2 linked regions of the Homo sapiens genome follow. The protein of the gene in region 1 interacts with the protein of each later gene in a pairwise test. Each region holds a gene or a part of one and is shown on either strand. Other genes may lie near its edges.

What was found. Proteins that work in one complex are often made in the same cells at the same time.
Region 2: the proteins of PSMB1 (region 1) and OTUD7B interact in binary tests that used the Homo sapiens proteins (3 or more experiments, as listed by UniProt).

The regions. Positions count from the first base shown.
Region 1 is NC_000006.12:170,546,808-170,550,307, reverse strand, and holds part of PSMB1 (proteasome subunit beta type-1), read left to right. Parts: intron 1-1,194; coding exon 1,195-1,302; intron 1,303-3,500. UniProt on the Homo sapiens protein: Non-catalytic component of the 20S core proteasome complex involved in the proteolytic degradation of most intracellular proteins. This complex plays numerous essential roles within the cell by associating with different regulatory particles.
Region 2 is NC_000001.11:149,944,727-149,948,226, forward strand, and holds part of OTUD7B (OTU domain-containing protein 7B), read right to left. Parts: intron 2,610-3,500; coding exon 2,525-2,609; coding exon of another isoform or gene 2,498-2,524; intron 340-2,497; coding exon 1-339. UniProt on the Homo sapiens protein: Negative regulator of the non-canonical NF-kappa-B pathway that acts by mediating deubiquitination of TRAF3, an inhibitor of the NF-kappa-B pathway, thereby acting as a negative regulator of B-cell responses.

The DNA of each region.
Region 1 (3,500 bases):
GCTGCCTGAATGAGTTGCTTGAATGTATGTACTATTTGAATAATTACCTGTTTGCCATTGCTTGCTGTTTATATTACCTGGAATGCCATCCTTTTCTTCTTGAGAGCTTTAGCACAAATCCCTCCTCAGTAAAAATAGTGGCTTAAGTTTCCTGAGTGCTTACGTCTGTGAGGCACCATGCCTTTAATTTCCACTATTGCATTGAAGCAGTGGTTATAGTTATCAGTCAAGCCTTGTACATTAAAATATACACACCCAAATATATATACACACCTTGTGACACAGGTACTGTTATCATCAACTTGCATTTGGAGGATTTGTCCAAGATCACATACCTAGTAAGTAGCAAGAGTGGGTCTCTGTCTCATGTAATTCCAGAGCCCAGGTGCTTAGTCATACTCCAGTGCCATAGCACTTATAGCTAACACTTACTAGAGGACCAGTTACATGTCAGGGACTGCTATAAGGGCTTACATATTTGATCCTTTGAACACCCTAATGAGGTAGCAACTGCAGTGATCTCTGTTGTATATATGATGAAATTGACGCTTTGAGAAGTAACTTACCCACAGTCTCATATCTGCGAAACGGGAAAGCCAGAATTAGAACCCAGGCGGTCTGCTTTTGGAATTCTACTGTAAGTCTCTTTGATAAGCTGTCAAATTGTACAGCCACAGAGGGAAAAATTTACTGTTTGTCCATCTATTTGTCATTATATAAGGGATTGGGTATAAAGAAATAAGCATTATATAGGCGTTATATAAGGACTTGGATATAAAGAAATGAAGCAAGAAAAAAAAATCTCATCTTCTCTAAACTCATAGAGCTTGCGTTGTAGTACCACTGTCTATACCTGATCCTCAAGGGCACAGATGTGGTATTTAGTTGTTCTGTATTAGTAGTACCTTGCGCGAGTAAGTATTTAATGTGTTGGTGATGATAATTCATTGGCTTTTCTGTTAACTCCTGCCAAGGAGACTTTGCCCTGATTTAGGCTTATTAATAATTTTTTTTTCCCAGACAACTCGTAGCCAGGCGTTCATTCTCTTCCCGCTCATCTTTCCTCTTCCCATTTGAATCATGTTTTTGTTGACATCTAGAGTATTTTATCCCATTATGTACTATGGAGCATTCTTCTATTTGTAGGGATAGGATTACCACCCTGGAGAATTAATTTTTTTCTTTTTTCCTCAGTACTATACTGGCAATTGCTGGAGAAGATTTTGCAATTGTTGCTTCTGATACTCGATTGAGTGAAGGGTTTTCAATTCATACGCGGGATAGCCCCAAATGTTACAAATTGTAAGTAAATATTTCTAAAGACATTTCACAATGCCTTTGTAATGATTTGATGTTGTGAGAGTTTCTACTTCTAAATGATTTGTTTCATGAGTTTTTAAGTTGCTGTTGGGAGCATTTTTATTAGAAAACCATTTTCTAAGTTAATGTTTCCTAATAATTTAATGTGCAGTCTTAATAATATTTGCTGTATTCAGGGTACCAAAAGTGCTTTCGGTAACCTAAATGTGTTCACCCCAGCATTTTACCATGAAAAATTTCCTGCTGTGTCTTAACATGGTGGAAGGCCAGAGAAAGAAAGAAGAGCAAGCGAACCCACTGCTGTGATAATGTCCATTCATGAAAGCTGAGCCCTAGGACCTAAACACCTGGTCCCAACTCCCAGTACCATCACAATGGCAATTAAATTTCAACATGAGTTTTGAAGGGAATATTCAAACCACAGCACCATTAATCCATTAAATGATATTTTTTTTAAATCTGCCTCCCCACACTTTTTTTTTTTACCTGAAACATTCGTTTTAGAAATATCCTAAGCAATTATGTCCACAGCTCAGTTTTAATAGGCTAGCTATGTTTTTCCTAAAACATGAAAATAAAGCCAAAACTTAAAAAAACAAAAAGCCTGCATAAATACTGAATACATACTGCAGATTGGCAGTGGTCTGTATTTACCAGTTTTGGAAATGCTTATAAATGGTCATGAATTCCTGGGTTAATTAAACTTGAATTGTAATAGGAATGGGACTTACGAGGTTTAGGTCCTTTGGATGGACCCTCCTTGTATTGTAGGAAGTAGGTACAGAAGAAAAGATACGTTGTCTTTCCTGCTCCTAGGGATGGCCCACATCTTAAAAAGCAATGAAGTTTGTTTTCGTCTTCCCAGTTCTGTTTCTCTCCACTTGCATCTTTTGATACCCCCTTTCTGCTTTCTGTTTATGGTGCTCTTGTGTTACCTTTTTTTCTCCTCAAGGACGACACTTGTACAACTTGAAAGTAGTAAATATTAGAAATAAGATTTTAAAACAACTTTATGGATACCATCCTTGTACTAGCTTTTACTCATCTTTTAAATATTGCTTTAGTTACGTTTGCTGGTGAAGTGAGCACTTTTTTTTTTTTTTTTTGTGAAACACGTCAGATATAGAGATAGAGAATAAGAACAATGCAGCATTAACGAATGCCTGTATATATCCCTCATCCCACGTCCTGTGGGTCTGACCTAGAACTAAGCTTGCCTCTTCCAAACCTGTTTCAGACTGTATTCTTTGCATGAAAACTCCCATTCCTTTGATGCACCTGGATATTTGGGAAAAGCATCTTGAAGTTCTAAGATTTCTGTCTTTCCCTGTTGGTATTGTCAACCAATCTTGTCAGTAAAGGCAGTAAAGCCTTATAGGGGATTGGACGTCTTCACCTTAGTGCAGTGAGGTTGATGGTAGGCATAGATCAGGTGATGTTAGTGATGACCCTAGAGGTGTCAGCTGCTCTCCTAGTAGGACAGGTATGGTTTGTGCGAGTCATTCGTAAGTTTCCAAGAGGAATTGTGTGGCCTCTGCAAAATATTGTTTAGGTTTCTTTATAGATTCATATCAAGATCTAGGAATTAATTTTTGAAATACACGGTTGAATTTGTATGTCTATACCAAATTTTAATCCTCTCCATACAGATGGACATTTAGGTTTTGTTTTGTTTTGGGGTGCTATTTAAATGAGTACTCACTGGTGAGTCTAGAGCATCCCTTTGCATACTTGGATAAGTATATTAACAAGATGGATTTCTAGCAATAGAATTGGTGAGAGTGGTGTGTATTTAAATTTTTAATAAATACCACCAAATTGCCCATCTAACAGGTTAATCAGTTTATACTGTTTCCACAACCTCACCAGCATTTAGTTAGTTAGGCATTTTTAGCCAGTATAATTGGTTGAAATAGTCTCTTTTTGAGATTTGGATTTCTGAGTAACATAGAGGCTCTTATGTTTATGGTGACTTAATGTCTCTTTTTTCTGTGACTTGTCTGTTCATAGAAGTTACCCATCTTTCCTTTATGTTATTGCTTTCCTTATTTGTAAGAATTTTTATAGAATTAAAATTAGACTTTGGGGGTAGATGCTACTAATATATTTTCTTAGGGTTTTAAAAAGCTATTCTTAAATTTCCCTGTAGAATTTTATGTAGTCAAATTTATGAAATTTTT
Region 2 (3,500 bases), on another chromosome or scaffold:
GTTTTTCTTCTTCTTCTCCAGTGTCTCAGTGCCGCTGCTTCCTCCCAACCCTGTCCCCACCCCTCCAGGCTTTGAACCCTTGCTGTGCATCAGGCCCCCCATGTTCTTCTTGAGCTTGCTGCCCAAGGTTTTGCCAAAGCTGCCCAGTTTGTTAGCCACAGAATCTGCTCTCTTCTTGTCCTTCTCCCGATCTCGCTTTGACTTCTCCTTCCGCCGGCCGCCCTCGTTGCTGGTGGAACTGCTGCCAACTGACTCCTTGTCTGAGTCTCCAGACTCAGGAGTGGACCGGGGCTCATCTCCAGCTGAGGCGGTGGGGGACTCAGGCTGGGCCAGAGGAGCCTGGAAGAGACAAGAACACTGTTGACAGTTATCCCAGCAGCCTGGGGTGGGGGAATCCCCCAGGGACCTCTAGCCCATCCATCTGGCTCAGGGAGCTCCCTGCAGCCATGGCTATAGAAATTAGCCAGGTAGAAAAGGATGGACACCTATGAACTCCGTCCTCTGAGTGATTGCCTAGTGACTGCCTTGCTCCAGAGAAGGGCTTCTGTCATGATGAGGGAAGGGTCACCCAGGATGGCACTGTCCTTCCTGGGTTCCAGTCAGTCAGCTTTCTCCCCCACTGCAATCTGACTCCCTTCTGTAATAAGGAGATAGTAGAATAAAGCCTTACTGTTCATTTAGAACAATGAGCAACCATATGATACGTGGCTTCCGGGTGAGAGGCCCAGACATTAGAATGTTCTTTATTATACATTTCTCTATGCCAAATTCTGCTCGAAACTAATCTCAAGAAAGTCTTGACTAATCAAAACTAACCAAGTCTAGCCACTTTGCATCCCCTCAACTTTTATACATTCTGCATTGGAGTTATCAATTTGACCCTACTCCTGTGCTCCTGTTCTAACTCAGAGCCCACTGAATTAGGAGCTCTTTAAGCTACTCCGTCTCCTAGTGCCCAAAACAGAGGTCTATCTACAGAAGACTTTGGACGAAATAATGATCATCTCAAGTTCAACAAACAGTCCAGAAAACCTTTCTTAAAGAATATGTTAAGCCAGGCACGGTGGCTCATGCCTGTAATCCCAGCACTTTGGGAGGCCGAGGTGGGTGGATCACCTGAGGTCGGGAGTTCCAGACCAGCCTGACCAACATGGAGAAACCCCATCTCTACTAAAAATACAAAATTAGCCGGACGTGGTGGTGCATGTCTGTAATCCCAGCTACTCAGGAGGCTGAGGCAGGAGAATCGCTTGAACCCAGGAGGCGGAGGTTGCAATAAGCTGAGATCGCACCATTGCACTCCAGCCTGGGCAAAAAGAGTGAAACTCCATCTCAAAGAAAAATAATAATAATAATAATAATATGTTTTAGGTCAGGCGCGGTGGCTCACGCCTGTAATCCCAGCACTTTCGGGGGCCAAGGCAGGCGGATCACAAGACCAGCCTGGCCAACATGGCGAAACCCCATCTCTACTAAAAATAGAAAAATTAGCTGGACATGGTGGCGGGCACCTGCAATCTCAGCTACTCGGGAGGCTGAGGCAGGAGAATCGCTTGAACCCAAGAGGTGGAGGTTGCAGTGAGCTGAGATCGTGTCATTGCACTCCAGCCTGGGCATCAAGAGCAAGATTCCGTCTCAAAAAATATATATATGTTTTAGTATCAGATAACAGAGACTGGCTGGAGAGGAGATGTGGAAAACAGGAGACTAACGGTTTTTAAAAAGCAGGAAAGGGCTGGGTGTGGTGGCTCATGCCTGTAATCCCAGAACTTTGGGAGGCCAAGGTGGGTGGATCACCTGAGGTCAGGAGTTCGAGACTAGCCTGGCCAACGTGGTGAAACTCCGTCTCTACTAAAAATACAAAAATCAGCCGGGTGTGGTGGCGCACGTCTGTAATCCCAGCTACTCGTGAGGCTGATGCAGGAGAATCACTTGAACCTGGGAAGTGGAGGTTGCTGTGAGCCAAGATTGTGCCACTGCATTTCAGCCTGGCTGACAGAGCAAGACTTCCTCTGAAAAAAAAAAAAAAAAAAAGGACAGGAAAGGCCAGGCGCGGTGGCTCACACTTGTAATCCCAGCACTGTGGGAGGCTGAGGCGGGCAGATCATCTGAGGTCAGGCATTCGAGACCAGCCTGGCCAACATGGTGAAACCTGTCCTCTACTAAAAATACAAAAATTAGCTGGGCGTGGTGGCGCATGCCTGTAATACCAGCTACTCAGGAGGCTGAGGCAGGAGAATCGCTTGAACCCAGGAGGCGGAGGTTGCAATGAGCCAAGATTGTGCCATTGCACTCCAGCCTGGGTGACAGAACAAGACTCCATCTCAAAAATAAAAATAAAAAATACAATAAAAACAGGAAAAATTGTCTTTGGAACTTATCTGACATCTTCTAGTTACTTCTAACCTTGAATTGTAAGCCACCACTCAGAATAGATTCAGAAGGAAACCATCCCAGATCTCCTTGTTCTGTCACTGAAAATGAAATGAAGACACACCAGGGTAGATGTGGGAGAAGTCTTCACCTGTGCATCAGAGGACAGTGGGATCCACTTCACATTCATGTAGCTATGCAGCAGATGCAATTTGACCTCTAGGGACAGAATTACACTATGAAAAAGAGAAAAAACAAATTACTGTCACCTTTTAAAAGCAAAGCAATTTGATATAGTTGGGAGAAAGGGTGGGAGAGGGCTACATGGCTTAGGACTCAAATAGGGTTGGGTTTGAACTATTTCTCCACCAATTAATAAGCTTTATGACCTTGAGCAAGTCACTTCAACCTCCCTGAAACTCAGCTGCAGCTGAGAATGGGTATAGATAATATCTATCCTGTAGGGTTGTTGTAAAGATTAAAACAGTGTTTGGAAAGAGCCCAGCACAGTGTCTGGAAAATGGGAAATACTAGATAGTAGCCATTATCATTGTTGTTGTTGTAAATATTATTTAGAAGGAGCTTTTGATAAATAGGTGAGAGGTTATTTTTAAAAAGCCATAAACTCTGGATTTTAAAATCAAACTCTCTTAGCTGGGACCCAGTGGCAGGAGCCCAGAGAGTGAAGCACTAGGTAAGTGCTAAGGGAGGAGCTTTTGCATTCATACACTCTCCATCAGGAAGTTGATGCAGGAGGCAGAAGGAAGGCTTAACAAGCCACAGGGAGGTAGAGTGGGGGCTGAGAGGGTAGGGAACATATTTTTCTTGCTATTAAATTCCAGAAAGGCAAAAACTCAGAGCAAACTATTTTTATCACGTATTTATTTATTTATTTTTTGGATGGAGTTTCACTCTTGTTGCCCATACTGGAGTGTAATGGTACCATCTCAGCTCACTGCAACCTCCGCCTCCTGGATTCAAGTTATTCTCCTGCCTCAGCCTCCCGAGTAGATGGGATTATAGACATGCACCACCACGCCTGGCTAATTTTGTATTTTTAGTAGAGATGTGGTTTCTCCATGTTGGCCAGGCTGGTCTCAAACTCCCGACCTCAGGTGATCTGCCTG